Homo sapiens: one gene and its partners. The protein of the gene in region 3 purifies or fractionates together with the protein of the main gene of each other region. This does not show direct contact. Each region holds a gene or a part of one and is shown on either strand. Other genes may lie near its edges.

Region 1 (3,749 bases), about 43 Mb from region 3:
GAGTTGAAGATTAAATCTAGCATCTCATCACTTTAACAAGCCAGTAGTCTATTCGAATCGTTTTTACCTCCTTTGAAACCATATTAAGCAAGTCCATTATTTCTTAGCATTTCTCAAACAGCTCTTACTGTCCCGTATATGAAATAGTACAAGAAAGTGGGGAAGAAAGGCCGGGCGGGGTGGCTCACGCCTGTAATCCCAGCACCTTGGGAGGTCGAGGCGGGTGGATCACCTGAGGTCGGGAGTTCAAGACCAGCCTGGCCAACATGGTGAAACCCTGTCTCTACAAAAATAAAAAAATTATCCGGGCATAGCTACTGAGGAGGTTGAGGTGGAAGAATCACTTGAACCCGGGAGGTGAAGGTTGTAGTGAACCAGGATTATGGCATTACACTACAGCCTGGGCAACAGAGCGAGACTCTTGTCTCCAAAAAAAAAAAAAAGAGGCCAGGTGCGGTGGCTCATGCCTGTAATCCCAGTACTTTGGGAGGCCAAGGCGGGTGGATCACCTGAAGTCAGAAGTTCGAGACCAGCCTGACCAACATGGAGAAACCCCGTCTGTAGTAAAAATACAAAATTAGCCGGGGGTGGTGGGTGCCTGTAATCCCAGCTACTTGGGAGGCGGAGGCAGGAGAATCACTTGAACCCGGGAGGCCGAGGTTGCGGTGAGCCGAGATTGCGCCATTGCACTCCATCCTGGGCAACAGCAACAATAAAAAACGGGGAATATAGAGGGGAAAAGTTTACCCGTTTTTGGGGAGCAGAGGGGTAACATAAACTACATTTGGGCTTGTGGGGCTGTTGTTGGTTTTGTCCTTTCCTAGTCTCTTCCCTATCAAGATTGGCTTCATGGAAGGTAGGATGAAGTTTTGATGGTCATGTTGGATTCCCTAGGAATGCATCTGTTGAGTCATTTACTTGAGAGCTGTCTTTTTTTTCTTTTGAGACGGAGTCTCGCTCTGTCTCCCAGGCTTTATTGAAGTGGCACAATCTCGGCCCACTGCAACCTCCGCCTCCAGGGTTCAAGCGATTCTCCTGCCTCACCCTCCCGAGTAGCTGGGACTACAGGCATGTGCCACCATGCCATGCTAATTTTGTATTTCTTTTTTAGTAGAGACACGGTTTCTCCATGTTGGTCAGGCTGGTCTCGAACTCCCGACCTCAGGTGATCCGCCCACCTCAGTCTCCCAAAGTGCTGACATTAAGGACCTGAGCCACCGCGCCTGGTCAAGAGCTGTCTTTTTTTTGAGACGGAGTCTTGCTCTTGTCGCCCAGGCTGTAGTGCAATAGCGCGATCTCGGCTCACTGCAACCTCCATCCCCTGGGTTCAAGCGATTCTCCTGCCTCAGCCTCCAAGAGTAGCTGGGATTACAGGCATCCGCCACTATGCCAGGCTAATTTTGTATTTTTAGTAGAGATGGGGTTTCGCCATGTTGGCCAGGCTGATCTCGAACTCCTGACCTCAGGTGATCCGCCCGCCTCGGCCTCCCAGAGTGCTGGGGTTACAGGCGTGAGCCACTGAGCCCGCTGAGAGCTGTCCTTTTAAAACACCAGATCCTCATCTCTAGCTAGCTTATTCTGCTAGTTAGTGAAGAACAGGGAAGGGAGCATGTGTGGAATGAACTTTTTACTACGGTCTTGTTAGGAAAAAAATAGGTAGTAGTAAATTAACGTTGTTAATAAGTTTAGAAGTATTTAGATTAACTACCAGTTCTTTGACTGTAGGCCAGTAATTTTCCATTGCCGTTTCAGTTAATGGACTAACTTTCTGGAGTAAAGTTTATTTTTCTCCTTCTTAAATGCATAGACAGAACTGAGTAACGTAGTGTTAAAAATCCCTTCTACGACTGGGCTCTGTCCCCCAGGCTGGAGTGCAATGGCGTGGTCTTGGCTCACTGCAACCTCCGCCTCCCAGGTTCAAGCGGTTCTCCTGGCTCAGCCTCCCAAGTAGCTGGGACTACAGGCGCGTGCCACCACACTCGGCTAATTTTTTGTATTTTTAGTAGAGACGAGGTTTCACCATGTTGGCCAGGATGGTCTTTATCTCCTGATCTCAGGTGATCTGCCCACCTCAGCCTCCCAAACTGCTGGGATTACAGGTGTGAGCCACCGCACCCAGCCAATTTTTGTGTTTTTGGTAGAGACAGGGTTTTACCATGTTTGCCAGGCTGGTCTTGAACTCCTGACCTCAGGTGATCTGCCTGCCTCGGCCTCCCAAAGTGTTGGAATTACAGGCGTGAGCCACCACACCCGGCCTGATTGTTTTTTTTTTTCATGGATGACTGTAAGGGTGACTGATACTGCAGGCATATTTTTTCTTTATATTTCAAGAACACTGTGTACACAAACAGTAATGACAAGCATGGAGTAAAGGCTGCAGTTTTATTTTTATTTATTTTTTTGAGACAGTCTTGCTCTGTCACCTAGGGTGGAGTGTAGTGGTAGGATCTCGGCTCACTGCAGCCTCTGCCCCCTGGGTTCAAGCGATTCTCCTGCCTCTGCTTCCCGAGTAGCTGGGACTACAGGCGCCCGCCATCGCACCTGGCTAATTTTTGTATTTTTAGTAGAGATGGGGTTTCACCATGTTTGCCAGGCTGATCTCTGACTCCTGACCTCAGGTGATCCTCCCGCCTCAGCCTCCCAAAGGGCTAGCATTACAGGTATGAGCCACTGTACCTGGCCTAAATTTTTAATTTTTTAATGGGCACATATTAGGTGTATGTATTTATGGGAAGGCTAAATTAAAAAAAAATTTTTTTTTGAAACAGGGTCTTGCTTTGTGACCCAGGCTGAAGTGCAGTGTCGCCATTATAGCTTACTGCAGGCTCGACCTCCTGAGTTCCAGTGACCCTCCTGCCTCAGCTTCCCTAGTAGCTGGGACTGTTGCACCGGCCTAATTTTTGTGTTTTTTTTTTTTTTTTTTTTTTTTTGTGGATTTGAGGTCTCTATGTTGCCCAGGCTGGTCTTGAATTCCTGGACTCCCACCTTGGCCTCCCAAAGTGCTGGGATTACAGGTGTGAGTCACTGCTTCTGGCCTAAACTTTACATATGTGTATATGACATTATGCAGTACCTCAGTTCACAGCCCACGTTGACAAAAGTTTTTAATTTATGTAACAAGATTGAAGCAGGTAGAGCGTTACTCCCATTTTCTGGTTCAAGAAAGTGAGTTTGAGAGAGAGATTTTTTTATGATCATGTGGCTAATCAGTTATTAAATGGTAAAGCCAGAACTTAGTGTCTGCTGACCTTTAGATCGGTACACTTACTCTCAGCCACTCAAAAGACCTCTGTGAAGTAAGGTGGTGCCTTTCAGGGGAGTAGGGGGTGAGTAGCGTATGCTTGATGCTTGTTCTTTAACAATTCTAATAGCATCTACTTCACATCTTGATGTTTGTGATGACTGATATCCATGGTGAATTGTAGACAAAATCTTTTCACTTTCCTAAAGAAACCTGATGGTTTTTTTCAGAGATAAAATCCCATCTCAAGGCACAGCGAAATTAAAATGAGGTGAAGTTTAGGTACTCTCAGAATGTTTATTCGCATACAGATTCTTAAAAAACATGATTTATTGTAGGCAGATGTCACCTCTTTAAGCAAAAGAAAAAAACAACCAAAAAAAGAAAAGCCCCAGCCGGGTTCCGCGGCTCAAACACCTGCAATCCCAGCACTGTGGGAGGCCGAGGTGGGCGGATCACCTGAGGTCAGGAGTTTGAGACCATCCTGACCAACATGGTGAAAACCAGT
Region 2 (3,749 bases), on a different chromosome or scaffold from region 3:
GAGTATCTGTAAAGAAGAATCACCAAAATTTCATTCCAGTTTATTAATTTCAAAATGTCTTCTACCAGTTAAAAGGCCAAGAAAAAAAACTGACAATGGACATTCAAATTTCTTTATGTTAAAGACACTGAAATGAGCTAGATTAACATAGGTTTCTAAAGAAATTTCAATGAAAAAATTACCATATGATGGTATTCATACAGCGGCCAAGACAGATGTAGATAAAAGACCTATATCTAACAGGGACACCCATTCTTAAATATTCTCAAAGAACCAAAACTAAACCAATGTACATTTTAAAATTTCATGAAAAGTTTGAATACATGGACCTGCAAACATGTTACTAATTTGGTACACTGTGGACTCTGATTAATATAGATATAAATCACATAATACAATAAAGCCACTACAACCTTTTCTAGTGTAGTTTAGACTGGAGGTAGGGACTAAACAACAAGGCTAGAAAGCTGTAGTTAAACAGTGATAACATTTGATATTAAATATTGTATTTTTTCCGTCTCTAATTGATTTCTTACCTGAGTAATTAAAAACTTCGTTATGTGCTCTGGCAACCTGCCCTTTTCACTTGACAAGATCATTTCCAGCATGTCTCCATGGAGTTTTTCCATAACAACAAACACTCTTTCAGGCGTCTCAAACATACACTCCAAATTTACAACACCAGGGTGATGAAGGTTCTATTAAAGATAAATAAAGCACTTGAAGAAAATGAGTTTTTTGATACTGTTTGGCAAGCTCGCTGATTATACAAAACTGTTCAAGCTTAGAGCTATAGAGAAACCCACACTTAAGATTTTTAACACCTCTACATTCCACATGTGCTGCCTTATATTTTTGAAATTCTAATGTCTCCAAAAAATACATCTTTACTTTCTATGCGTAGTGAAATTATTTCTATGTGAAAAAAATCCAAGTTCTAGCACAGTGAATTGCTAATTAGGTTTTAATTAGAATACCATATTGAGAAATCTATAATTTCTTAGGATCATCCCCAATATTAAACATATTGTCCTAACTAAGCATACTAGGCTATTTATATACAATTGGTAGAAATCTAATGTAGTAAAGATGAAATTCATACATGTAGTGCATCGGGCCATGCACTGATTAAGTACCTTAGTCAAAACCTTTTAGAAATGCTTTGCTACTGGTACTGGAGGCTGCAGTTTTTGACAGAAACTCTTATACTAAGTGAAGATCATAAAAATAGCAACAAAAAAAAAGTGAGCCTGTGCTTTGTCTACAATACCATCCTACCTGCTTGGTTTTCAAGCACGCAATAAATATAGCTAATCCTTGAGAAACACAAATTTGAACTGTGTGGGTCCACTTACATGTGGATATTTTTCGATAAGTACAGTTGGCCCTTGGTATCTGTGGGTTCTGCATCCACAACCAAGTGAGTATTGAAAATACCGTGTTCACCGGATCCAAAAACCTGAGGATGAGGAGGACCAACTTTTCCTAGAGGGAAGTTCTGCAGAGCCAAATGTGGGATGTAAGTATGCGTGGATTTTGATATGTGGTGCGGTGGTTCTGGAACAAATCCCATGCGGATACCAAGGGACTGCTGTCTTTCCACAATAAAGTAATGACTAGTAATGGTAAGCAGCATTTTGCTTGACACATTAATTGCCACATGTCAAGTAAAATTACGCTTAGCATTAGACGATCTCTTGTAATAATGCTTAAATCTGAACGTTCTTCTGGGTCATCAACAAATGCCTTTGATCATTTGACCTTTACCTTTTTTCTCTGCACAACAACAAATCCTAACATTAAAAAAAAATTATATATTCCACTTATATCCCAATGAGCAAGAGAAGAAAAATCATCATGAACAAAAACCACCTAAACAAAAAAAGCAGGAACTAACTTAAATGTGCTAACAGCTGAAGAGAGAAAAAAATTAAATGCTTCTTTATTTTAGAAAAAAAAATCTCAGTGATAAAATTGTACGTAAAATGAAATTTAAAACCTCAAATGGCTCACTGCTCAGAAACCTCACAGATGGATGCTGGGTGGTGAGCAGCAGAAGGGGTTGTGGGTGAGTCTACATTGTTGTAGTTGTCCTCTCACTACCCATTTGCAAGGAAAGCCTGGCATCAACTGGATATAGAACCAGGAGCTCTGATGATGATAACTCATTTCTTAGAGAGTCCTTTTTCTACTTTGCCTGTTTTGATCTCTGCCTCAGGCATCTGATGGGTCTCTTTGATTCTGATGCCTTGGGTCAAATCATACAGCATAATGGAGTCATGGAATTGCAAGTTTATTATGAATGTGATCTGAGCAGACGCCTACACATCTACCCAATAGCCTTTAACCTCTAAAGGGCTAGAGTCATTGTTCTTCAAACCGTTGCACTGTTAACTGGTCAAGTCTGGCAACTTCGAATAGACCTCACCTCCCACGTTGCTCTCTCCTGGTCAGAGCTGAAGCACATGGAGATAGTTGGGGTTCACAAAGCTCATATTATCAACCCTCTTACTTTACTTTTCCTGATTACTTGCAAATAAGAGCAGATAGCCAGATGGCTTTGAGTATTATGGGAGGGCCAGAGGCTAAGGAGGCGACTAATATGACGACATACACTTGTTTGATAGGCACTATGGAACATGTGATAGTATTGTTCATACTTGAACTTGTGTCCCAGGCTGTCTCATTTCCTTTTCCTTACATGCCTTTCCCTGTTAGAGAAGCCAGACTGACTGCACAGACCACTGGCCTCTGAAGTGTCAAAGGTCTCAGCTGTTCTCTTTTAATCAATAATCACAGCACGAGCTTTAAGGATTACATGAGTTCGGCTAGAGTTCTGATTCTCCTAGGACAAGTCCACTATGATATGTGCAAAGTACACGTTCCTCTTTGAGCATCTTCATTGATTCTTTTATTTTTCTATTTAATATAACTGTAAGCACTTAAGCAGTGTTCTGGGGAGTCTGGCTTCCTTAAATGGCTAAGCTTTGCAGTACGGGTGGGAAGCAGAAGCAATGAATCAGAAAGGAGCAGAGCAACAGAAGTAGACAGGAAGGGTAGGTGTCCTCTGTGTGTAGGCAGACGAAAAACTAGTAGGAACAAGAGATAAGCGTTAAGGGAGAGTGACCTCGGGGGCCCAGGGAGGGCAGGGGTCACGGGAGTAGTATTGGAGCTGCACAGCCTGCTGCTTCTGCTGATCTTAGATTCTGAAAGTTGGAGAAGAGGGGAGAGACGCAATGACTGGGGAGTCCTCCTACCTAAATTATCTGAATGATATGAATCCTTATGTGCCTCTACCTGTATTCCTCTTTTTTTTTTTTTTTTTGTTTTGACGGAGTTTCACTCTTATTGCCCAGGTTGGAGTGCAATGGCAAATCTCGGCTCACCACAACCTCTGCCTCCCAGGTCCAAGCGATTCTCCTGCCTCAGCCTCCCGGGTAGCTGGGATTACAGGCATGCACCACCATGCCTGGCTAATTTTGTATGTTTTGTAGAGATGGGGTTTCTCCATGTTGGTCAGGATGGTGTCTAACTCCTGACTTGAAGTGATCCGCCCACCTTGGCCTCCCAAAGTGCTGGGATTACAGGCATGAGCCACTGCACCTGGCCAGTACATGAGTTCTTAGAGGTACTAAAGTCCTTCACTCAATTTATTCCTTTTTCCTACTCCACAACATGACCTGAGGTGCCCCTGTACAGAGGGTAGAACTTTAATACATGTTTATTTCCAGAATTGGGGTATTCACAGA
Region 3 (3,749 bases):
CGCTGCAACCTCCGCCTCTCGGTTTCAAGTGATTGTTTCGTCTCAGCCTCCTGAGAAGCTGGGATTACAGAAGTGCACCACCACGCCCGCCTAATTTTTGAATTTTTAGTAAAGACGGGGTTTCACCATTTTGGTCAGGCTCGTCTCGAACTCCAGACCTCGTGATCCGCCCGCCTCGGCCTCCCAAAGTGCTGGGATTACAGGCATGAGCCACTGCGCCCGGCTATTTTTTTATTTTTTTTGAGACGGAGTCTCACACTGTTGCCCAGGCTGGAGTGCAGTGGCGTGATCTCGGCTCACTGCAACCTCTGCCTCCAGGGTTCACGCCATTCTCCTGCCTCAGCCTCCCGAGTAGCTGGGACTACAGGCGCCCGCCACTACACCCGGCTAATTTTTTTTTGTATTTTTAGTAGAGAGGGTTTCGCCGTGTTAGCCTGGATGGTCTCGATCTCCTGACCTTGTGATCAGCCCGCCTCGCCCTCCCAAAGTGCTGGGATTACAGGCGTGAGCCACCGCGCCTGGCCTCTTCTTCTTCTTTTGTTTTTGTTTTTTGTTTTTTTGAGACGGAGTCTCGCTTTGTTCCCCAAGCTGGAGTGCAGTGGCGCGATCTCTGCTCACTGCAACCTCCGCCTCCCGGGTTCACTCCATTCTCCTGCCTCAGCCTCCCAAGTAGCTGGGACTACAGGCGCCCACCACCACGCCCGGCTAATTTTTTGTATTTTTAGTAGAGACGGGTTTCACTGTGTTAGCCAGGGTGGTCTCGACATCCTGACCTCGTGATCCACCAGCCTCGACCTCCCAAAGTGCTGGGATTACGGGCGTGAGCCACCATGCCCGGCCCACGCCCGGCCTCTTTTTTAAAATACAGACAGTGTCTCGCCATGTTACCCAGGCTGGTCTTGAACTGGGCTCAAGCAATCCTCCCGCCTCGGCCTCCAAAGTGCTAGGATTGATGACAGGCAAGAGCCAATGCACCTGGCCCCTTTAAAACTTTTTTTTTTGAGGCAGAGTTTCACTCTTGTTGCCCAGGCTGGAGTGCAATGGCACGATCTTGGCTCACTGCAACCTCCGCCTCTCAGGTTCAAGGGATTCTACTGCCTCAGCCTCCTGAGTAGGTGGGATTACAGGCGCCTGCCACCACGCCCGGCTAATTTTTTTGTATTTTTAGTAGAGACGGGGTTTTACCATAATGGCCAGGCTGGTCTCAAACTCTTGACCTCAGGTTATCCGCCTGCCTCCGCCTCCCAAAGTGCGGGGATTACAGGCGTGAGCCACCATGCCCGGTCCCCTATAAAACTTTTAATGTCTGGATAATATTTTACTGAATGAATGTCTCCTGCTTTGCTTGCCAATTCCCTATCGATGGATATTTAGGTTGTTTTCAACTTTTCACATCATTACAAACAATCTCATGTTCATTTTTTAACATAACAACGTTTATTTATTTGGAATACATTTTTGTTAGTGGAATTGCTGGGTCATTGACAAATTGTCTAGGTCTAATTAAACATGTTCATACTGTGTACCAAGAGGAGATGTAGCGTGGATGGCACCAAAGTCAGGGAAGTCTTTCCGGCTCCTGGTCTGCTGGTCTGCCCTTTTGAAGGCCTTGGAGTGTTACAGCCATACCCTGGCCTTTCCCAGGCTTTTCTTTCCCTGGCACGGATGCAGTGTGTGCGGTCAGAGCTGGCGAGTTCGAGACTTGTCCGAACCATCCACCCGCAGCCAGGCCCCGCTGCAGAGGCTGCGGTGGCCCTCCCAGCCCCTGGGAATCTATCCCCAGGTCCCCTCCCCGACCGCGGGAGGGCGTGTTAGGGGAGCAGCTTAGGCAAGCGACGATTGCACCATCCACGTTTTGAAAAGAAAGTCCGGGGAGCGCAAGGAGGAAACTTTTACAATCCAAAGGTTGAGCCCCAGCATCCATACTCGGCCCCTGCAGCGATCCTTCCACTCCTGCTCGCTGGGTTCCGATCCCTTCCCTTCCACCCCGTCTCGGCCGAACCCTGTGCTGGGCACTGGCCCTTTAAGGAGCTGTCACGATGGCGTCGCTGGCCCCGCCCGGCGGGGAGGGCCGAGAGGCAGGGGAGGGGTTGGTGGTGGCTGCGGGCAAGGGGAAGGCGGGGGGGGCTGGGGGGGGGGTCTGGGTCTATTTTTAGCTCCGGGTCGGGTCACGTGACGGGAGTGACGTCTCCGAATGTTGTTGTTGGTGGCGGCGGCGAGCGGAGCCGGAGGAGCCGCCGCAAAGATGGAGGAGCCGTCGAGGAGGTGCTGCCGCCGCTGCCGCCGCCGCTGCTGCCGCCGCCGCCCGCGAAGCCGGAGCTCGAGCCGCAGCGGGTGAGCGCGCCGCCCCGGCCCAGATCCCATCTTCCCCGGACCCCGGGACGCGAGGCGGCGCCCCCTCCTCCTGCTGTCTCTGTCCGCGGGCTCCCAGCGCGCGCGCCGCGCTCCGCGCCCCCCTTCCTTCCTCCCGGCCCTGGGAGCCAGCCGGCGCCCCCCGGGAGCATCGGCAGCCCGTGAGCGGGACATCGGGGTTGCTGCGCGCGCCCCTCCCTGCCCCTCCCAGACAGGGGCGCCTTCCCTACAGGTAAGGGAGGGGCCCGCCTTCTCGCGCCCTGCGCCCCCAAATGGCTCGGAGACCGGCCGGGGTTGTCTGATTTGCCCCTTCCCTGGCGGCGCATGTTGCGTTGCAGAGCCATTTGAGCCCTGCACCCGGATTCTGTGCAGACCCCTCTTCGCTGGACACCCCTTTCTTGGTACTCTGAGGTGAGGGGTGCTGTCCACCCAGAGCGCTTCTCCCCATAGCTACGAACGCATCCTTGATTTTATGTCCTTGACTTCCGTGCATGAGGAGGGGGACTGCGGAGTCCACCTTACTTCTCTCTCCCATTATTCTCACCCCGTCTCCTGTGAGGCGTTACTGCGTTTGTTGCCACCCTCTTCTCCTGTCTGACACCTTGGAGCCAGGATGCGAGAGCTAGGAGATGAAATGGAGCTCCCCCCCAACCCCTTCTTGTCTTGGGTGGATGCCCCCCATTTTTCATCCTGGATCTGTATCTCATGGAAGCGGGGGCACTACCAGTGCCTTATTAACTTGGGGGGAGTCAGCTTCTCCACCCCACCCTTCCCTGGGGCCCTGGGGAAGATGAGAACTGGCTGGGTGTAAGTAATTAATCTGGGAGCTTGGTGGGGGCTGTTGAAGTGGGGAGGTTGGGTGCTTCCTTTGGGAGAGGAGATGACCACTTGATACCCCTGGCTGATACCCCTTCTGAAATGAGGTGTGTCCCTAAAGAGGAAAGGTAACAGCTGCAGTTGCTTTTAGGAGGGTGCAAAAGGGACCCATCACTCAGTCAGTGACCACCATGCTTTTGGGATCTGGGATTAGATTTGGAGCTTGGGGAGGTGGTGGTGATTGGTTTCAGTGTCCAACTGGGAGGGGAGGATGGAGCCAGATTATGGGAACAAAAGGAGGTGGGGGGGAGGGTGAGATCCAGGAGTCTTGGTCAGAGGGACCCCTAGCCAGATTGCCTTGCAGGATTGCAGTCTGGGTCTGGGTCCTGCCTTTGGCTTCCTCTTAGTTTCAGAGGATGTAGGCAGGCAGGCATGGTCTTCAGTCTCCCCAGTCCTAGGCACCCTGAGCCTATGCTGGCTGTTGAGATGCTGGGCTGGGCTGGGCTGGGCTAGGCTGGCTGGGCTGGATGGTGGATGAGCCATGTTGGGGGCTGCCTGCTTCTTCATTCCAGTCTTCCCTC

Evidence for each region.
Region 1: the proteins of HDAC5 (region 3) and YWHAE purify together in Homo sapiens (affinity purification with western blotting; 7 studies listed by BioGRID and IntAct, with this or other methods). This does not show direct contact.
Region 2: the proteins of HDAC5 (region 3) and PRKD1 purify together in Homo sapiens (affinity purification with western blotting; 4 studies listed by BioGRID, with this or other methods). This does not show direct contact.

Annotation. Positions count from the first base shown.
Region 1 is NC_000017.11:1,393,618-1,397,366, reverse strand, and holds part of YWHAE (14-3-3 protein epsilon), read left to right. Parts: intron 1-3,749. UniProt on the Homo sapiens protein: Adapter protein implicated in the regulation of a large spectrum of both general and specialized signaling pathways. Binds to a large number of partners, usually by recognition of a phosphoserine or phosphothreonine motif.
Region 2 is NC_000014.9:29,599,120-29,602,868, forward strand, and holds part of PRKD1 (serine/threonine-protein kinase D1), read right to left. Parts: intron 699-3,749; coding exon 537-698; intron 7-536; coding exon 1-6.
Region 3 is NC_000017.11:44,122,089-44,125,837, reverse strand, and holds the start of HDAC5 (histone deacetylase 5), read left to right. Parts: upstream 1-2,196; 5' UTR 2,197-2,334; exon of another isoform or gene 2,335-2,584; intron 2,585-3,749. UniProt on the Homo sapiens protein: Responsible for the deacetylation of lysine residues on the N-terminal part of the core histones (H2A, H2B, H3 and H4).